Linked DNA regions of Homo sapiens. The protein of the gene in region 2 interacts with the protein of the main gene of each other region in a pairwise test. Each region holds a gene or a part of one and is shown on either strand. Other genes may lie near its edges.

Evidence for each region.
Region 1: the proteins of IL37 (region 2) and GSN interact in binary tests that used the Homo sapiens proteins (3 or more experiments, as listed by UniProt).

The regions. Positions count from the first base shown.
Region 1 is NC_000009.12:121,327,162-121,330,251, forward strand, and holds part of GSN (gelsolin), read left to right. Parts: intron 1-146; coding exon 147-321; intron 322-1,729; coding exon 1,730-1,854; intron 1,855-2,076; coding exon 2,077-2,154; intron 2,155-3,090. UniProt on the Homo sapiens protein: Calcium-regulated, actin-modulating protein that binds to the plus (or barbed) ends of actin monomers or filaments, preventing monomer exchange (end-blocking or capping).
Region 2 is NC_000002.12:112,909,977-112,913,964, reverse strand, and holds the start of IL37 (interleukin-37), read right to left. Parts: upstream 2,801-3,988; 5' UTR 2,717-2,800; intron 1,003-2,716; 5' UTR 953-1,002; coding exon 871-952; intron 174-870; coding exon 111-173; intron 1-110. UniProt on the Homo sapiens protein: Immune regulatory cytokine that acts as a suppressor of innate inflammatory and immune responses involved in curbing excessive inflammation.

The DNA.
Region 1 (3,090 bases), on a different chromosome or scaffold from region 2:
CAAAGTCTGTGCCCTCAGCTCTGATGGGCTGTGTTCCTCCAAGTCCCCACCTGAGAGCTAGTCCTGCTGCGGGGTCTCCTGGGCTGTGAGGAGGGGGCTGAGGGCTTTTTGTCTGGTTCCTGATTAACCAAGCTGTACCCTCCCAGGTATTGCCTAAGGCTGGTGCACTGAACTCCAACGATGCCTTTGTTCTGAAAACCCCCTCAGCCGCCTACCTGTGGGTGGGTACAGGAGCCAGCGAGGCAGAGAAGACGGGGGCCCAGGAGCTGCTCAGGGTGCTGCGGGCCCAACCTGTGCAGGTGGCAGAAGGCAGCGAGCCAGGTAGGAGCCGGGGTGGGGGGCCTGCTGCTGTCCGGATGCAGCTATTAAGTTTCCCCCTTCTTTCCTTCAGCTTGGGGGCTCTAAATCCTCCCCTCCATCCCACCTGAGGGCCTGTCCCCTAATGTATGTTAAATAAAAGCAGTTGCATTAAAATGAGGGCTGTGGCCAGAGAGAGGGAGGTCTCCAGGAGCTAAAGAAAGGAGAGCCTAGCCTGGGCGTGGTGGTTCATGCCTGTAATCCCAGCACTTTGGGAGGCTAAGGCGGGCGGATCACCTGAGGTCGGGAGTTCAAGACTAGCCTGACCAACATGGAGAAACCCCATCTCTACTAAAATACAAAATTAGCCGGGCATGGTGGCACATGCCTGTATAATCCCAGCTACTCGGGAGGCTGAGGCAGGAGAATCACTTCAACCCGAGAGTTGGAGGTTGCGGTGAGCTGAGATCACGCTATTGCACTCCAGCCTGGGCAACAGGAGTAAAACTCTGTCTCAAAAAGAAGAAAGAAAGAAAGAAAGGAGAGCCCAGTGTGGGAAGGAGCAGTTGGTCTGTGGAAGGAGGCGGTCCCTCGCTAGGAAGCCTTGAAAGGTGGTAGGCAGGGCTGATAGCGTCAGAGGAGCAGTGGTCTCCTTGCATCTCTAGACTCTCCATGGACAGAAATGCCACCAGCCTGCTCTGTTTCCAGAATGTGGGCCGGGCAGCTCTTCCTTCTGCCAGCCTGCAGTCTTTATACTGTTACTTTGAGTTCATTCCCACCTGCTTGATGCTTAACAGAAATGGTGAAGAGTGACTTGGTCTAAAGCAGCTCTGTCCAGCAGAACCTTCTATGCAGATGGACATGTTCTGTATCTGCCGAGTCCAATTTGACAGCCATTAGTCACATGTGGCTGTTGAGCACTTGAAATGCGACCAGTGGGAATTAGTGGGAATGAAGAACTGAACTTTTAGTCGAATTTAATTTTAATGAATTTAAATTTAAATGGCTGCACATGGACAGAGCAGGTATAGTGGAAAGAGTATAGGTGTTAGAATCAGACAAGATTTGTATCCTGGTCTTAACACTTACCATCTGTGTGACCTTGAGTGAGTTGCTTAACCTCTCCGAGCCACAACTGCCTCATTAGCTGAGTGGAGCTAATGGTCCTCATCCCGCAATGCTGTCGTCAGCCTCAAGCCAATAGTGGTCCTGGCTGTGTGACTACTGCCAAGTCTGCCCTCTCTGGGCCTCTATTTCGTCACCTTCCAATTCCCTCAGGCCTCTTCCCTCTGGATCTCCTGGGATTTTTAGGATGGAGGGAGGAGAGGGAGAGCAGTTGGTTGCGCTTGGGCAGGGCTGGTCCCAGGGTCCGATGAGATGGGAGAGAGGGGTGATGGCGTCCCTTGGCAACTGGCGTGGCCTCCCCTCACAGATGGCTTCTGGGAGGCCCTGGGCGGGAAGGCTGCCTACCGCACATCCCCACGGCTGAAGGACAAGAAGATGGATGCCCATCCTCCTCGCCTCTTTGCCTGCTCCAACAAGATTGGACGTTTTGTGGTGAGCCCCTGCGGAGGTCACACCTCTGCTTTCCCCTCGGGAGGCGAGTTCCACAGGACTGGCCGGCAGCAGGGGCAGGAGAAACAGTTCTGATGGTGTGGCACAGAGGAAGGGGCCCCCTGCCAGCTGCAGCCAGCTGTGCCACTCCCTCAGGGGGCAGATAAAGGAAGGCCACCCAGGGGAGGGAAGACATCTCACTGATGCTCTTTCGTTCCTTCCCAGATCGAAGAGGTTCCTGGTGAGCTCATGCAGGAAGACCTGGCAACGGATGACGTCATGCTTCTGGACACCTGGGACCAGGTGGGTGAAGGACAGGTGAAGGCTCTCTGTGCCAGAGGGAGTGGGAGAAACTAGACTTCCAGTTCTATGATCAGTTGCTAGAAGGACCTAAAGGGGGCAGTGCCAGGTGTTGCCAGAAAAGTCTCTAAGGGTACTGGAAGTCACTTCTTCTTTCTGAGCTTCCATTTCCTCATCTGTAAACTGGGAGTGGCGGTACCTCCCTTGCAGATACACTCACCTTGAAAGCTGCAAAACGCCCTATAAAGGCAAATCACATGACCTTCATCATTCTCTCCCAGACCTTGCAGGAGCGTGAACTCTTCCTTTAAATCTGTTGGCAGAGGAAGTTGAACTTAGCAGCATCTTGTTTGCAGGCATAAACTGTCCAGTGTCACCTAGAGGCTCTAGAGGGCTCCTGCTTCTGGTTTGAGGGCTCTGGGCTCTGTCTCCACTTCATCTCCTAGAGAAGGCCATTATGTAGGACTTGGCAGGGGAAGATGCCATTCACTTACTCAACCAATATTAATTGGGCACTGCTTTGTGCCAGGTGCTTTATGTTTGAGATGCTGGGATAGAGCAATGAATAAAGTAGGCATTTTCCTGCTCTCCCAGGGCTTACGTTCTCACAGGGGTGTCAGGTCAGTCACCTTTCCTATCAAGGTGGCTTCTCCCAGAGTCCTCAGAGTTACGGAGCAGCTGGCCACGAAGGCATAAGACTCTACACTACCCACAGGGATGCTCGGAATCCCCAGTTGGAAGATCGGGACCAAAAATGATTGCAGCTTGAGCCATTCAGCAGTTGTCATTGATTGATCCATTGGCTACTTAATCTGTTTGTTCATCTGTTAGGGATTCAGTCAGCCAACATTTATTCAGCACCATGGTCTTGCAGGCAAAATGCTGAGTGCTGAGAATCCTATGATGAGCAAAATAGAATGCCTGCCTTCGAGGGGCTTC
Region 2 (3,988 bases):
GGTGTCCCCATTCTACAATTCTCCCACCCTGTAAGAGGACCCAATGGCTCCATCCCCCATCCCCACCCTCGCACCTCAGCCACCCCCATCACCTCACCCCGAGGCCTTACTTGTGTGAACAAAATTCATGGTGGGGAGGCTTGGGCCTGGTTCCAGGGGGCTTCCAGCCGGGTCTGCAGTCAGACGCAGTGAGGTTAGCATATGCAATTCGGATTTTCCAAGGATTTAGGGGTATCAAAGACCATTTAATTCCCTCTTCTGTGTATGTGCTGAGAAATACTAGAGCAGCATGATAGTAATGACATTAAATCATAGCTTCCCTCTTCAGAAACATAGAATAGAGATGAACTGGATCACGGGTTTGGCCTCTGGCATGTCACAGGCCTCTCCCGTCACACCTCAGTAGACAATCATTTGGGTCAAAAGCCTCCTCCTATTGTCCCCCATGGGCAACACCCAAATGTGTTCCTCATGGAATACTCAGATGCCCTGTGCCTGGGTCATTTGTTCAGCCCAGCCTTAGAGAGCTGCTTCTCATCGGAGGCTTCTCTTCCACTTGGGAATGTTGGGAGGGAAGAGGTGCATTTTGAAGCATATGCAACCATCCAGTTGGCAAACAGGATGCTAAAGCCCCAAATCTGTAGGTGAGGACGATCCTTTTATCTACTACCTGATGTGCCTGGACACTGAAGCAAAGCTTCCTTTTCCCTTCCAGAATTTCTCTTGTCTAGTTATTTGTCCAGGGAAATTTGAAAGCTCACTTACTGTGCAAGTCAGCAGGAAACAACTGGGTCTGTGCACAGCACCTAGCAAAGTTCTGCTCTAGGAATTACACTTTGGCCCTGAGGTAGATTTCTACAAGAACCTTACCTTCTAAGCAGCACTGGGGTTCATCTTTTTCCCAGTCCTCAGAGCCCATTTTCACTCCTGAGTTCTCCCCCACAAAGGACATTTTCAACGTTGAGTTTATTACTCAACAGAAAATGGAATGAAGTCCAAGACCTAAGGAGATAGAAAGGGGACCAGTTATGGCATCTTCTCACCCCAGGACACCTTGCTGCATGTCTCTAGTGCTGAACAGACCACTGGCCTTGCTCTGTAGTTTGAAATGCTCGCTGCAACCAGAAAGGCACCAAGGGGCCAGACCATGCTCTCCTGTCTATCACGCCTTCAAAGCAGAATTTCCCAAACCTTGAGTCACAGTGCTAACACACGGGGTGCAATAGCATTTTTGTGGATCTTGGCATTTTACAAAAATAAAATAAAAAAGTTAAAAGTGCATTGCTCTAGTCTTGGGGCTGGCACACTATGGCCTTTGGCCAAATCCGGTCCCTGACTGTTTTTTTAAATAAAGTTTTATTGAAACACAGCCATGCTCTTGTTTACATATTGTCTCTGGCTGCTTCGAGGCTACAATAGCATGGTTAACTAGTTGAGAGATCATCTGGCAAGCAAAGCCTAAAATACTTACCATCTGACACCTTCTATAGAAGTTTGCTGAGTCTCTGCAGTAGCCTAATCTTTGCCTAACAAAAAGCAGTTGCTCTGCAACCTCTTTTCATGAAAACCTAAGCCACCAAATGTCCCAGGAGGCTCAATCCCTAATATCTTAGGGTAGGATTGACTCACGTGACTTGCTTCATTGGGAGGGGTTGGAGGAGATATATTTATATATATAAATTCTGCACACCCTATCTCAGTTGACCGAGAGCTTTCAACATCAGCCCAGGCCAACATAGGACAGAAGTGGAGCAAAAATTGGTATTCCCATCTTACCGATAAAAAATCAAAAGTTAAGTGATTTGTTCAGAATCATATCACTTCTAAGATTGCAGAGATAGGCAGTTTGTGTACAAATCCAATCCTTTGAGAAAGGTTTAGGAGTGAGACAAAGGGAACTAAATTGTTCATGCAAAAAATAAAAATGACAAGGAAGGGCTTCAGGACTCAACAATAAGGACGGTGAGCAGGAGCAGGTGGGTAGAGCTGATGGGTCTTTAGGAACAGGGATATCTGCTATTTGATTTTAACCTGTTTGTGGTTTGGCAGTATCCCTGAATACATGAAGCACAACTGCCTTTGTCATGTTGGGGTAAATCAAAGGACACAAAAAATTGGAGGCGCTTGACAGAGAATTTGGCAGCCAGAACATCAGAGCAAGAGATGTCTGGCAGAAACGTAGGTATCCAAAGACATATAAAGATACTGTGGTGCTGCTGAAGGACAGAAGGATGCTCACAGGCTGGAGGACCTGGGGCCATCCCTCGGGGGTACTCATGAAATCTGCTGCCTGTATTAAGATAAATGCAGGGAGCTTTCACAGAATTCCCTAAAGAAGCAGTGCATCTGGCCATCTGAAGTCCATCTCTTTGCACTCAAAATCTGTTCCCAAGGACCAATATTTTCTAGACTCTAAAGTCAGTCTTCTGAGCCTTCAGAGAAGGGACTAGCATTTCCAGGGTTGGTGGATTTCCTAAGCTAGTGTCTGCCTGGCCCTCCAGCAATGCCCTACTTGTTAGTGGAAGCCCTCCTGGGAGAGAGCAGGCTGCTACTGGGGCTGAGAGCAAGGTGTTCTGGGCAGGTCTCAGAGATCATATTTAGAAATTCAGATGTGCTTCCAGTGGGGATAAAAAGCAAGGGTCTAGATGGCCAGATGCTACTCTACTTCCCCATCCATCCTGTTGGCCTTGAAAGCCAGTGCAGGAGGACCACCTACCTGGGCCAGGGATCCTCGTGGTCTGTGGCTCTGTCTTGGACTCCTGGAGCTCTGTTTGCCTTCAGTTCTCAGGATCCTTTACTTGAAGGAGCTAGGTCTGGTACTCATTTGTAATCAACAGTTTGTGAGTGGTTATGCAAATACAACACAAGTATTCCTTTGGCCAATAATAAATAGCATCCTCAGTTATCAGTGATCACTCATTTCCTGCTATTTTCCATGCCAACGGTATAAACAAATTCCTGTGGGGGTAGTGCCACTCTGCTAAGGACTGTGCCACACCTATTCAACACATTTCAAGGTACTTGTGATAGATCAGGTGGCTTCCAGTCCAGTCCAATAATACAGGTATAGAAAACAGAGGAGAGTGAAGGAAAGAGGGGACACAGGGTTTAGATCAGCCAATGAGCCTGGGAGGTTCAAGGAAGCCCTTGTTCTCATGATGGTTCTTTGCCCCAATTCCAGAGTTCATGCAAGTGGAGTCCCCATGTCCCAGAGAAAAATGTCCTCTTTTCATGTTCCCTTCCAGGTACACTCCGGGATGCACTATACCTCTTCTATGTCCCCTCTTCTTCAAAGGTGACATGCAAAAGGACCTTCCTTGATCAAGCCCTCCAAGGACTAGCTTCCTTCTACAGCCCATTAGCTATTTATCTGCACTTCCTTGCATTTTTCCATCACATTTGCCCTTGTCAGTTACTGTGTATGGCTATGTTTTACAACACCACACACAGCTGCTCAGTATGAGGGGAAATCCACATAACCAATTAAGGTAATAGCTTCTGGACCACCACCAGCAGCATGTCAATAACACAGGAACAACAGGCCAGCACAATAGTCAACCACTGTGCTCTCACTGTGCCAGGTCTGGGCTCAGCCCATTTATTTATTTTTCTCCAACCAAATCCTTTGATGACCCTGGGGGTAAATACCATCCTTCCTGTTTTACAGACAAAAGGTGGTGCAGTTTAGAGAGGATGGACAATTTACCCAAGATCACATCCTTAATTACTGGAAGAACTATAACCCAGGCCTTTCTGAGCATGCTGCAGCCTCATCTCTTAAACTTCACCGAAGACTGTGGTCTCATCCTCTAGCCTTTCTTCACATACGCATTTATATAACATACAAATATAGGAGTGTGTCTGACAAATTATTTTGTAAGATACATTTCCTACTTAATGTATCTTGCCTTTTCTACTCAATATGATATCTCAAACATCGTTCCATTTCATCAATACTTTTCTACAATAGTGTATCTAATTACTGCAA